Linked DNA regions of Homo sapiens. The protein of the gene in region 1 interacts with the protein of each later gene in a pairwise test. Each region holds a gene or a part of one and is shown in the gene's direction. Other genes may lie near its edges.

Region 1 (3,500 bases):
TCCCAAACAAGGAAATTATTGCCCTTCTCTCCTGCAAAGATCCCTGTTTTGCCTGGGGGAGGAAGAGGGAATTGTCAGAATATAATTTCAGGAATTTCAGGAGCTGTGCTTTGGTTCATCTGCTGCTGAGGTAGAGATCACCAAAGTCTCTGTGGAGGGCAAAAGGATCAGATAAGAAAGAAGTCACTCCTCATAGATTGAGAAATCTGAAACCTTAGGAATTCTTGCTGATGAATTTTATTCCCTTCTAGTCTAAGAAACCTTTCTTTCTTCCCAGCGAGAGACATATAGAATAAATCACTAACGGCGCAAACAATATTTGAGATAAATGCGGTTGCCAGATAGTTTCCTAGGAGTTCTGCAGAGGCATGTGATGACTGCAAACAGCTGAGTCTGTATTTTAATTCAGTGGAATATATTCAGACTCCTCTGGGAGCTCTAACATGTTGTCTGTAGCCAAGGGCTCAATGCTACAGTAATAGTTTTGTGTGCGTGTGTACGTGTTCTTCAGAAATTAAGCCATTTCTTCAAAATTTCAGTTTAGTACAAACAGTAAGCCCAGGTCAAAAATGTTCACCAAGACATTAGCAAACTCTAATGGAGGGTTAGTTTTCCAGGCATTCAGAACACAGTTTCTAAACGTGGTTGAGAAAAATTACCTTGGATGTATGGAGCATCATTGAACAATGACCTTTCAGGTTAATTAAGAAAGCTGAAGCCCCAGAGGAATCTTGAGCAATTTTTTGTTGTTGCCTGAAGGAACCAAAGAATAAAAATGTAGTGGGAATATTTGGAAAGGGGATGATTTTTCAAGCTTGTAAAAAATGAAGACCAGCCACCAGAAGAAAATGCTTTTATGTGAATTCAAAGAGAAATGCTTTTTTATTTTAAGTAAAATTTAGGTCCTCAGACTTCTTAGCTTTTCTATAAATTGGCTTTTGGTTATCCACGTTAAGCCCTTTATTTGCTCCTGTTTAATATAGGAACAAATGGTGAAATAAAGAGGAAAATGGGTCCATTCTATGAGAATGTATGTGCAGTGGAAGCATTTCTTCTTTTAGTTTTCTATATAAAAATATTTACTCACACTGTATACTAAGTAGTTTAATCATGGCAGGTGTCTAATGACTTTTTTTTTCCCCAGCTGACTCAGGTGTTGACACCTTGGCAGTGTTTATGGCCAGCAGCGGAACTACAGACGTCACAAATCGGAACAGCCCAGCCACACCACCAAACACCCTTAACCTCCGATCCTCCCACAATGAACTGTTGAACGCTGAAATAAAACACACAGAAACCAAGAACAGCACACCTCCCAAATGCAGGAAAAAATATGCACTAACTAACATCCAGGCGGCCATGGGCCTCTCGGATCCAGCTGCACAGCCCCTGCTGGGAAATGGCTCTGCCAACATCAAGCTGGTGAAAAATGGGGAGAACCAGCTCCGTAAGGCTGCAGAGCAAGGGCAGCAGGACCCCAACAAAAACCTGAGCCCCACTGCAGTCATCAACATAACTTCTGAGAAGTTAGAGGGTAAAGAGCCCCACCCACAGGATTCCTCGAGCTGTGAGATTTTACCCTCCCAGCCCAGGAGAACTAAGAGCTTCCTAAATTACTATGCAGATCTGGAAACCTCAGCCAGAGAACTAGAGCAGAACCGAGGCAATCACCATGGGACTGCGGAAGAGAAATCCCAGCCAGTCCAGGGCCAGGCCTCCACCATCATTGGGAATGGCGATTTGCTGCTGCAGAAACCAAACAGACCCCAGTCCAGCCCTGAAGACGGCCAAGTAGCCACAGTGTCATCCAGCCCAGAAACCAAGAAGGATCATCCGAAAACAGGGGCCAAAACCGACTGTGCACTGCACCGGATCCAGAACCTGGCACCGAGCGATGAGGAGTCCAGCTGGACAACGTTGTCCCAAGACAGTGCCTCACCCAGCTCCCCGGATGAAACAGGTACCCCTGGGGAAGGCGTAGCCTCAGCTGGCACTTTTTTTTTTTTATCTTTTCAACTATTGGAGTAAATCTCTAGACTGACCAAAAATGTCCATTATGCAGAGAGGAACGTGAGCCTCTTGCGGTAAAATTGGGCAATTTATTTGCAAAATATTACTGCATTCCTCAACCATATTTTAGGTCAGTTTCATTTTGGATCGTGCATAAAGTTGTTTGTTCTGGGAAGCATTTTTGTAAAATAAACAGATCCTTGGTGTTAAGTACAGTAAAATATCATATATTTAGAAATTACACTTCCAGTGCATAGGTAGATCATTTCTATATGCTATCTAGAAATACTGGGTTTTGGTAAGCAAAATAATAAAAGAAACAAAGTTGTTGGGGGAAGGATATAACCCAATTAAGAGAACTATTTTAAAGTCCTCAAAATAACTTATTTATGGTGAAGCGCATAAAAAGTTAAAACATTAGCCATCTGTTCATTAAAGGCATTTCTCTTTTTGACATTTACTGAGGAGTGTTTTATTAGCCTTAAGTAATATTTAAAAGTGGGAAAATCGTATTTCTTGAAAAATATATTCAGAAGTTTAGACTTTTAACTAGTCTAATTGAGACCAGTCTTTCTGGACTTTTGTCTATATTTGTAATATTTTGGATTTGTCGGAGGTGTTAAAATGGTGACAGAAATGAACAGGATCCTAAAAGTCAGCTACTTTAAATATCATTTTCTTATAGCTCCCACTATACTGATTCTAAGATTGAAAAATGTGGAGAACCTTATTGTATCTGAATTCAGCGTAAACAAGCACTCAGAAAGGCTAATTTTTTAAAAGTAGTCCAGCAGTTCCCCTAGTGGGTCCCAGGGCTGTGTTAATATAGATATAACAAAGAAAATAGATAGAACCACCAGGGAAGGAAATCACATTTTTACAATCGATAAGGTAGATAAATTACAAGGACTAAAGATAAGGAAAAGAGGAGTTAAGACATTAACTTGTTTAAGAAGAAAAAAAAAGTAGCGTTTTTGAAGTGCCCTTTAAAAATCCCAGTACTTTCAATGATGCATACTACTGTGGAATGTGGCAGTAGGGAGGTTGAGATGAGGCCATTTCATCTCATAACTGTCTGGCCCTGCACATTATTGGAATCATAATTATGTTCAGTAATGTCCCTGAGTTCACAGCTCTCTATCCTTTTTACCCATTTAGAGAATTCATATCCTGAAGCTGATAGACATTGTCACCTGCTGGAGTTTGAATCTATTAATACATGAAAGACTCCTTGCACATCTTTCAGCCAAGCTCTACTTCCTGTGTTTGGCGTTTACTGACACCTTGCTGTCTCCCTCTGGTCATGGCACCCTTTCTGCTGCTCTTCCTGGTATAGCCGGTTCTGTTGTAGTTAAGTTTTAAACTAACCTAAAGTTTTGTTCAGGCACAGTGGCTCATGCCTGTAATCCCAGCACTTTGGGAGGCTGAGGCAAGAGGATCACCTGAGCCCACAAGTTCAAGACCAGTAAGACCCCATCTCTCCTCCTCCA
Region 2 (3,500 bases), on another chromosome or scaffold:
AAATCAAAGTGGCCATTTTGGACATGTCACTTTAATTTCCTGGGCCTCAGATTTCTCATAAAAACTAGGAACTTGGACTATTTGATGTCTAAAGTGCCTTTCTGCTCAAGCATTTTATAAATCTCCAATAAATTCCTGCTAAAGAAATGTTATTTTTTATAAGATTTCTCGATTTTACTTAGGAAGTAAAGATACCAGAAAGTGTCAAACTCAGCATGAGCTTAGAGTTCTGTCCCTGGCACCTCAGTGGTTTGTGCTAACTTGGCCTATTGTTCCTCCTCTTTGTGCTTTAAATTACTCCACCCCAGCATAATGTTTCTCCCATTTCACAGCAGAATTATGACCCTTTACTGTTTTATTTATTTATTTGAGATGGAGTTTGGCTCTTGTTGCCCAGGCTGGAGTACAGTAGTGCGATCTCAGCTCACTGCAACTTCCGTCTCCCGGGTTCAAGCCATTCTCCTGCCTCAGCCTCCCGAGTAGGTGGGATTACAAGTGCCTGCCACCATACCCAGCTAATTGTATTTTTAGTAGAGACAGGGTTTTGCCATGTTGGCCAGGCTGGTCTCGAACTCCTGACCTCAAGTGATCCACCTGCCTCGGCTTCCCAAAGTGCTGGGATTACAGGCGTGAGCCACTGCGCCCAGCAACCCTTTACTGTTTTTAACACCCTCCAAGTGGATGTCTCCCTATCCTACTTGTGTCCTTTCTGATGTATCCCTTTTTTAGGTAGAGTTATCCATGGAAGACATTGAAACCATCCTGAATACACTCATTTATGATGGAAAAGTGGAGATGACGATTATTGCTGCAAAAGAAGGCACAGTTGGCAGTGTAGATGGACACATGAAACTGTACAGGGCAGTCAATCCAATCATCCCTCCCACAGGTTTGGTCCGGGCACCCTGTGGACTCTGCCCGGTGAGTTAAAGTGGCTTCACTTTACACTTGACTGCCCACGGGTGCAAGTGCCACATTAAGAAACAGAGCAAGCACAGCCCAGTTTTCTCAGACTCTTAGGGTTGACCAAGAGCTATTCAAACCTCCATGAAACCTTGATGAACAGACCTTTAATGAACACATCATTCCTTTACTTTTTTTTTTTTTTTTTTTTTTGAGACGGAGTCTCACTCTATCACCGAGGCTGGAGTGCAGTGGCACAATCTTGACTCATTGCAACCTCCAACTCCCGGGTTCAAGCAGCTCTCCTGCCTCAGCCACCTGAGTACCTGAGATTATAGGCACCCACCACCATGCCCAGCTAATTTTTTTTATTTTTAGTGGAGACGGGGTTTCACCATGTTGGCCAGGCTGGTCTCGAACTCCTGACCTCAGGTGATCCCCTCAGCCTCCCAAAGTGCTGAGATTACAGGCATGTGCCCCTGTACCTGGCCCCCTGCTTTACATTCTTTCTTGGAACAACCACATTAAGGATATTTACGTTTTCTGCTCTTGGCCTTGAAATGGACACTTTTTGATGAGGGCTAATCATTTCACCTAAATAGGGCAGAAAATGAGATTTGTTGAGAACCTACCTTGGGCCAGATATGTCCTTGATGATTTCCATAGGCGGTCTCATTTAATCCTCCTTACATTCTTGAAGCTAGTGGTGTTATTTCCCCTTAAAAGTGAGGGAGCTTAGGCTTAGGAAGACATAGGGGCATACAGCTTAGAAGTAACCGGGATTCAAACCCAGAGATCATGTCTTTCCCCTGCAGCATGCCCCAGCACTCCTCCTTCATTCATTCCCAAATATTGTAAGTGCCAACTCTATGCTCTAGGCACTAAGGATACAAGAGAAAGCAAGAGACACTGTCCCAGTCCTCATGGCATTTATAGATGAGCCTGTGTGTGTTTTATTTCATTATACCAACCTTTGTCTATATGCCTAAGCTCTCTATGCCTTGGTTTCAGTCCCTAGACAAAAGGCTAACATATTAGGAATTCTGTTTTGCACCCTTCACAAAAAGGTAGCTAAACATGAAACATTTGGTTAATCAAAATTAAGTCATTCATATGTATAGGTCTCCCTGCCCATATTCCTGTGTTACCTGGTGATAGCCTTTTGCCCAGCAGACAGGTGAGCATGGTCATCTTAATGCCACAGTAAAAAAAGCCTCTCTACTACTCCTAACTTGATGATCACAAAGCAGGCCCTATTATAGTATGTTCTTCCCGCTCCCCCCTCGCCCCCCGAGATGGAGTCTTGCTGTCGCCCAGGCTGGAGTGCAGTGGCACGATCTTGGCTCACTACAACCTCTGCCTCCCAGGTTCAAGCAATTCTCCTGCCTCAGCCTCCCGAGTAGCTGGGATTACAGGTGCCTGCCACCACGCTCAGCTAATTTTTGTATTCTTAGTAGAGACGGGGTTTCACCATGTTAGCCAGGATGGTCTTGACCACCCACCTCGGCCTCCCAAAGTGCTGGGATTACAGGTGTGAGCCACTGCGTCCGGCTATAATATGTTCTTAAGTACAGTCCTAGTCCCTTTCAGTTTGAAAGTTTTGTTTTTAATCTTGCTTTAAATAAGTGGTTGGGTCTTAGATATTTTAAAACTTTAATTTGAATATAATTTTTTTTTCTTTTTTAAAGGTTTTTGATGACTGCCACGAAGGTGGTGAGATTTCACCATCTAACTGTATTTACATGACAGAGTGGCTCGAATTTTAATAGAGAGCTATGAACTTTATTGACATTTTGCAAATGAAGTTACTTAGGGAGCAGATAATTTAATTCATGATGGAACACGAAATCTCCTTGAAAGCAAACTTCACAATAATGGACGTAGACTTGCTGCTATGAAAACATATTTTTTTTATTTATGAAGACTAAATTTATATTGGTAAAATAGCCAGTAGAATATGAAAGAAATAAGGTTAGTAGTGAAATTCATTCTTCAATAAATAAAACACTTTGAAACTCCGGAGGACCACATCTTTCAAGACTTCTGATGGGTCAAGGAAAAAGATGCCAACATACCCGTATTTACCAAGTACTATGATAATGGCTAGAGTATAAAAATGTTCTTTTTAAAGTTATTTATTAAGTTCTTCATTGGAAGTTTTTTTTTATATCTGGTTCACTACCACCATTTTCTGTTTCCTACTTTCTCAGTGGTTTCATTGAAAAGAAATTAGAAGGGGTTAAAGGCAGGAATAGCAAAGAGTGCAAACTTGGGGTATGACTGGGGGAGAGTGGAACATGCCTTTTCCGCACAATATTAATTCCTTTTTGTATCAGAAATGTTCTTTTAGGAGATTATGCTACCATACTTACTTCAAACCCAATGACTACTGTCAAGGACATATTTTCAGTACATAAATACTATCATTTTCATTCTAAAGAATATTTTCACTGTTCCTTCTTTCTTAAAGTCTTATGTTTCACTCTTTAACTCAAATGTATTCTTTGTTAGAATTTACCCTAGATTCTTATTTAATGTCTGCAGTAGACTGAATGTTTGTGTGCCCCCAGAATTCTAATGTTGAAATCTCATTTCCA
Region 3 (3,500 bases), on another chromosome or scaffold:
TGTCCTAAAAATAACAATTGCTACCATTTATTGAGTTTTACTGTGTGCCAGCCAAAATGCTAGGCAATTTACGTAAGGATTTTTATGAAGGTTAAATGAAATAATTTATTAAGTATTTGTTATTTCTGTTTTACAAATGAGGGAACTGAGATTTAATTTAGGGAGTTTCAGTAATTACCAAGATCACACAGTAGAAGAGCCAGGATTTGAATTTTGTTTGATACTAAAGTTTGTGCTCCTAAAACCACTATAGTCACAATACTGTATAATTATTTTTGGAAACTTTGGTTAAGAACTAAAACTATCTAGGAATATTGTATCCTGGGCTTTCATATACCAGCAGCATTTGGGTTGATATTAGCTGATTGGGAAGAGATCTATTGTAGATTTTTTAAAAATCTATTTTTAATGAACAATTATTGTTTATTTTGCTTGAAAGAGTGAACAGAGAGATCTGGAAATGTTAACATTTATTGACATAGAAAGATATTTGTAATACGTGAAGAAGGTAGATTATAAACTGCAGAGTATCAACCTTTAAAAAACAATCTGTACATGTAAGCAACAAAGAAAAATGTTAAGTCTACATTGTGGCGGCTCTCACCCGTGGTTACCCTTGGAATCAGTTGTGGAGACATCAGAAAATTATTGTTAAAAGTTTTAAAGTTACTGTAATTTATTCATAAATTAGAATTATTTTCCCTTGATATGATTGAATCAGATAGTAGAATATTTTACAATTATATTCCAGATATATGCTACTATACCATTAGAAAGACATTTATGCTTTTAAAAAAAAATCTGTACTAAAACTTTAAAATTATTAAAGACTTTTTTTTAATATGTTAGACATCTTAATTATAAATAACCAGATGAGGCAGCTTCCTTTTTTCATAATGCTTAATTTCTTTCTTTTCCCATTCTAGGAGCTACAGCGGACTAAGCAAGAAGTCCTCTCTTTGCGAAGAGAGAATTCTACACTAGATGTTGAATGCCACGAGAAAGAAAAGCACGTTAATCAGCTACAAACAAAAGTGGCAGTTTTAGAACAGGAAATCAAGGATAAGGACCAGCTTGTTTTAAGAACAAAAGAGGCATTTGATACAATCCAGGAACAAAAGGTCTACTTTTAAATTTTTCTCAGAAATTGATAATCATATTTATAAGTAAACACAAATGCCCTAATTATTCATGTTTTTAAAAAATATATCAGGTGGTTTTAGAAGAAAATGGTGAGAAAAATCAAGTACAACTAGGAAAGCTTGAAGCTACAATAAAATCATTATCTGCAGAACTTCTGAAGGTTTGTTTTAAAAATTTTATAGACTAGTATTTCATTAAATTACATAGAAATATACATATGAAGCTCTTTTATAGGCAAATGAAATTATCAAGAAGTTACAAGGGGATCTGAAAACTTTAATGGGTAAGTTGAAATTGAAGAATACAGTTACTATTCAGCAAGAAAAACTCTTGGCTGAGAAGGAGGAAAAATTACAAAAGGAACAAAAGGAATTACAAGATGTTGGACAGTCTCTTCGAATTAAAGAGCAAGAGGTAGTTAATATTTTAAATTTTTATGTTGTAACTAAATTTTTTCCTCGTTTTAAAAATTTATGCTTTGTTACATTAACAAATGGCTTTGGTCTTGTTTTTTTTTTTAACAAAAGAACATGACTAGATTGAGTAGATGGTAATAACCTGTTTCAGTTTGGAAAGTTAGTTATCATGATTCAGATACCTTGATTGCTCATGTATGTCTATGTTTGTATACACATGTAAATATTTTATTACATAATTGAGCTAATTCCTTTATTCTCATTTAATAATAGTAGTAGTAACCATTTATGTAATTATTTAGTTAATAATAATACATTCTTCAGTTTTTATTTAACCTTTATTTTGCTTGACTTATTGTGATGATTGATATATTTCAGGTATGCAAATTACAAGAACAATTAGAAGCTACAGTTAAAAAACTTGAAGAAAGCAAACAACTTCTAAAAAATAATGAAAAGTGTAAGTATGTTACGTGTTAATGTAAATGAGGTTTGTAGTTTTATTCTTTTATTTTTTTGAGACACGGTCTCACTCTGTCACCGAGGCTGGAGTGCAGTGGCATGATCTCAGCTCACTGCAGCCTCCACCACTTTGGTTCAAGTTATCCTCCCGCCTCAGCCCCCCAAGTAGCTGGGACTAAGGTGTGCACCACCACACTCAGCTAATTTTGTGGGTTTTTTTTGTAGAGACGAGATTTTATCATGTTGCCCAGGCTGGTCTTGAACTCCTGAGCTCAAGTGATCCACCCGCCTTGGCCTCCCAGATTGCTGCGTTTAGGTTTACAGGTGTTAGCCATCGTGCTCGGCTGTAGTTTTATTCTTAACCTGAAAATTTTATTCGAATTCATAAAAGTAGACATTGGCCAATATATAAGTAATTTCTGCTTTAAATATACTGTCTTAATGCCTTTTCTATAATAAATTTATATCATCTGCCCAGTAAAAGAGTTATCATCTTTATAAAGAAAACCATATCCCATAGGTCAGTAACCCACAATTAAAACTGTTGAAAATGTTGACTGTAATTTATTGTTTAAATTCTTCATTATTCCTTTTTTTAATAGCTGTGTTTACCTAATAATAACAATATGAATTGTTTGAAAACAAAACATAAAAATAAGATTTTAACTAACATTTTCTCAGTTTATACTACTGGGTATCATACATAAGATTGTGAATTTTAAGTAAACTGTAAGATATTCTAGAAGTGAAATCTTTCAAAGAGTTGCTTGACTAGCAGAAATATGTGCTTCGGAAAGTAATACAATAAGGAGTCCTATGTGGCAGCTTCTAAAATAAGAAACTTTAATGACAAAAATTTAGGTGAACCTATATTGCTCTCCTGTGATGTCAGGTAGTTGTAAAAACTTATAATTTAAAAATCTTAATATAATTTTTAAATGTTTAAGATGATTAGAAAAATAAACAGTCAATATTCTTTACCTTGCTTCTTGTTCTTTTATTTAAGTAATCACGTGGTTAAATAAAGAACTAAATGAAAATCAGCTAGTGAGAAAGCAAGATGTATTGGGACCTTCTACTACTCCGCCTGCACATTCCAGCAGCAACACAATCAGAAGTGGAATTTCTCCTAACCTGAATGTGGTAAGATTTAAAACAAGATGTGAGTGATCTTAGTGAATTTCCTGAAACAAAAGTATTTCCAGATTGTTAGGAAGTTTCCATGATTTAAGGTGCTGATACCAATACAAAGTGGAGTCCTACAATTGCACTGAAATAGAGTTTAAGTTGCCCCTGGAAGTGGAACAAAGGCACACTTGCTCTGAACAGAGGCTGAGTTTCAAGAGCACATTTCTTTTTTTTGTTTTGTTTTGTTTTTTTTTTGAGATGGAGTCTCGCTCTGTCGCTCAGGCTGGAGTGCAGTGGCGCGATCTCGGCTCACTGCAAGCTCCGCCTCCCGGGTTCACACCATTCTCCTGC
Region 4 (3,500 bases), on another chromosome or scaffold:
CACCTGGGACTCCCAAAGTGCTGGGATTACAGGCGTGAGCCACCGCGCCTGGCCTATTTCACTTTTATAAAAAAGAAAAAAAAAGATGGTTGTGAATTGCTAAATTTATTTCCCAACTCATGTATGGACACTGCACACGTTCACCCAGCTCATCTGACAGGAGGATAGACTGGCGGCAAATCAGCAGTAGGTCTCTTGACTACCAGTTTAGTACTCTTGCGAGGGCACCATTGCCACGGTAAGCATATTTATCAGATTCTTCAGGAGGTGCATTTGTGTGTCTTGGTTATTCTGCTGACATAAGAGTTACCTAATTCTGAAGCCAATCAGCCCCTCAACCACTTTCCTCTTGCTGTTCAGTATGGTTCTTCTGCTCTTACTTGCCTGGAGCAAGTTCTTATGCTATTCTCTCTTCTTTTACAGCTTAATTCATGTCAGTGCCATGGCAGGAATGCCTTCCATCCCATGTGTCCATTCTTCTGTTACTGGGTCAGACTCTGTTTTCCACCAGCCATCCCCCATGTCTTCTTTGGGAATCTTTATCTTTCCTGCCCTCCTAGTTAACCACACTCCCCAGGACACTGATTGGAGAGCTTGCCTTGTTCTGAGTCATCTTCATCTCTGTACTTAGATTATTCCCCCAGGAGGACTGTAAGGTGCAGTGCCCTGCAGGCCCCAAAGCCCCACACTCAGGACTTTGCCCCACTCTTCTGCTCACATCGTCTTTTGTATCTGCCCTTCTCCTGTGCTAGGAACAATGGATCCTGACTGGATCTTAATTGGATTAGGAGACCCTTTGTGTTCCCTGTGCACCTGGTACTCAGCCCCTTTGCTTGAGTTATCACAGTGTTGCTGTATCTGTTATTTAACTGTATCTCCACTAAATTGGAAGATCTCTGAGGGCAGGGACACTATGTCTTCTCTATTCCTGACAGTTGGCAAAATGTCTTAAAATAATAGGTAGTCATTGGTATTTGTTGAACGAATTGCACATAATGGGCGCCCCATAAATAAGTGGGGTAAAGTTAATTTTTCCTAAGTTGGACTCTTACAAGTACTTGGATCTTATTTTATCTTCGGGGTTTAATATCCATGGGTACAACCATAGACAAAAAAAAAAGGGCCAGATGTATTGGCTTGAGGCCTCATCCACTTTGTATTCATTGTATTGGTGTTCTTGTGACACTGAAATGTCTGTATTGAAGAGAAGAACAATACTAACCCATCCTTTGTATGTCTCTACATCTTTTATCCATTACCTATTTGTGCCAGCTCCTGCGCATGCTAGAGTGAGCTGTCCAGCCCTTGAAACAGATGTAAATACTACCAGTGTGCAGACCCCTCATGCATGGATAAAGACAGTGAATCCCCCCAGATGATGAGTATTAAGGTGGGCACGTAATCCAGAGTAAGGGTTTCAGGAGGAAGTAGATTTGGTAAGAAAGGTGGTTGTTGCCGTTTGGCCAATAGATGATTATTTTAAACTCTTGAAAAGTTACTGAAAAGAGTGTAGCGGAGAGGCAGGGTTTGAAGGAGCCAGGAAGAGTGGCATGAACAATGAGGAGAGCTCATTGAGCATGATGGAGAGCCCCAAGATCAAAACTTGTTTTACGTTTGCATTACTGGTAAGAAATATAAGTATGTTGTGAATACAAACAAGTGAGGGAATGAATTGAAATCACTTAGACATATCTGTGGAAAAGACACTGAAAATCAGGGTCACCTTATTGGAGTGTATTGTTGTCACTTGAGTTGGGGAAGTAAAGTGATTAATCTGTGCAGGAATGGCTGCCTATTGGTTAAGGTGGGAGTAGGCAGATTCAGCCTCCTCAACACACATCCTTCCAGGGGATCCTCTTAGGGCTGAACAGTTTTAGACTGTGTGTGCACAAGTGGCACCATGACTCAAGAGACAGTGAATCAGACTGATTTGAAACTATAAACCCAAACAAGCAAATAGCCCGAAGAATGAGGTGTAAAGGAGGCAGAGTATTTTAGCTGAAATATTTTAATCTGGAGGAACAGGAGAGTGGGACTCTCCTGTTTGGACATTTGTAACTTAGGTGTCTGCTGATGCCATCCACAGAAGTCGTCTTTGATGCTTCTTTTTGATGCTGGTGACAAAAGCTGTGGAGGAGAGAGGCGTTTGGTAATGTGGGCAGAGAAACGTTGATACAGTCAGAGAAAGCAGATGCAGAGGGAAGAAGATAAATAAGACTCTTCAGTGCCTTTAGTACAAAAGGCAAATTACAAAAGACTTAATATTTCATTTATTCCTTCATTTGACCAGTAAACCATTAAACATAGGCTGGGTGTGGCGGCTCATACCTGTAAACCCAGCAATTTGGGAGGCCTAGGCAGGAGGATCACTTGAGCCCAGGAGTTCAAGACCAGCCTGGGCAACATAGTTGGGACCCCCATCTCTACAAAAAATTTTTAAAAGTAGCCAGGTGTGGTGGTGTGTGCCTGTAGTTCCAGCTACCCAGGAGGCTGAGGTGGGAGGATCGTCTGAGCCCCAAAGTTTGAGACTGCAGTGAGCTGTGATTGCGCCACTGCTCTCTAGCCTGGGCAACAGAGTGAGATCCTGTCTCAAAAAACAAAACAAACAAAAAACCCCAAACTGTTAAACACACATTTATTTATGCTCTGCTTGTGCCAGACCGTGTACTACGTACTCTTGAAGTATCGTTAATCCCAAGCTGTTTCTTTTTGTTGTAAAAGGATGGATAGATTTCAGAGGCATTTTGAATACGTAACTATGATTTGCTGTTTTATAACTTTTGTGTCGGTGATTCACAGGATCCATAATTGGAAAATCCATGTCACAGCAAAGCTGTAGTGGCATCCTCTCAGGTCGTGGGACCCTTGAAAAACACCTTCTGTTGGTTGTGAATGGTGTTCACAGCCAGCAGTCTCAGGGTGGAATTCTCCTCCAGTAGCAAGTTACTTTCCTGGGCATGTTGAAGTTAATAACCTAACTTCTTTGTTCTCAGTGTTCTCAGAGGGAATACTATGATGCCACTAAGGGAAGAAAGCTTAGAGTTTCTGCTTGAGTTTGACTGATTAGGGAACAGAAAAACAGAAATATGTCGGCCGCGGTGGCTCACAGCTGTAATCCCAGCACTTTGGGAGGCTGAGACGGGCGGATCATTTGAGGTCAGGAGTTTGAGACTAGCCTGGCCAACATGGTGAAACCCCATCTCTACTAAAAATACACAAATTAGCTGGTCGTGGTGGCAGGCACCTATAATCCCACCTACTCAAGAGGCCGAGGCATGAGAATGGCTTGAACCCGGGAGGCAGAGGTTGCAGTGAGCCAAGATTATGCCACTGCACTCCAGCCTGGGCGACAGAGCGAGACTCCATCTCAAAAAAAAAAAAAACAAATGTTATGAATACTGTTTGACATAAGGGGAAAGCACAATGATATTTCTACAAAGGAAATAGAATGTTGGCTTGCAATTCAAGGCAGCCAGTATGTGAACAGGAAGAATGTAACT

The links. The genes of interacting proteins can lie anywhere in the genome.
Region 2: the proteins of APBB2 (region 1) and POLR3F interact in binary tests that used the Homo sapiens proteins (3 or more experiments, as listed by UniProt).
Region 3: the proteins of APBB2 (region 1) and SASS6 interact in binary tests that used the Homo sapiens proteins (3 or more experiments, as listed by UniProt).
Region 4: the proteins of APBB2 (region 1) and ABHD17C interact in binary tests that used the Homo sapiens proteins (3 or more experiments, as listed by UniProt).

What each region holds. Positions count from the first base shown.
Region 1 is NC_000004.12:41,012,043-41,015,542, reverse strand, and holds part of APBB2 (amyloid beta precursor protein binding family B member 2), read left to right. Parts: intron 1-1,144; coding exon 1,145-1,960; intron 1,961-3,500. UniProt on the Homo sapiens protein: Plays a role in the maintenance of lens transparency, and may also play a role in muscle cell strength. Involved in hippocampal neurite branching and neuromuscular junction formation, as a result plays a role in spatial memory functioning.
Region 2 is NC_000020.11:18,480,890-18,484,389, forward strand, and holds part of POLR3F (DNA-directed RNA polymerase III subunit RPC6), read left to right. Parts: intron 1-729; coding exon 730-921; intron 922-2,591; coding exon 2,592-2,669; 3' UTR 2,670-3,500. UniProt on the Homo sapiens protein: DNA-dependent RNA polymerase catalyzes the transcription of DNA into RNA using the four ribonucleoside triphosphates as substrates.
Region 3 is NC_000001.11:100,105,431-100,108,930, reverse strand, and holds part of SASS6 (spindle assembly abnormal protein 6 homolog), read left to right. Parts: intron 1-926; coding exon 927-1,121; intron 1,122-1,213; coding exon 1,214-1,303; intron 1,304-1,377; coding exon 1,378-1,557; intron 1,558-1,937; coding exon 1,938-2,019; intron 2,020-3,027; coding exon 3,028-3,164; intron 3,165-3,500.
Region 4 is NC_000015.10:80,698,310-80,701,809, forward strand, and holds part of ABHD17C (alpha/beta hydrolase domain-containing protein 17C), read left to right. Parts: intron 1-3,500. UniProt on the Homo sapiens protein: Hydrolyzes fatty acids from S-acylated cysteine residues in proteins. Has depalmitoylating activity towards NRAS and DLG4/PSD95.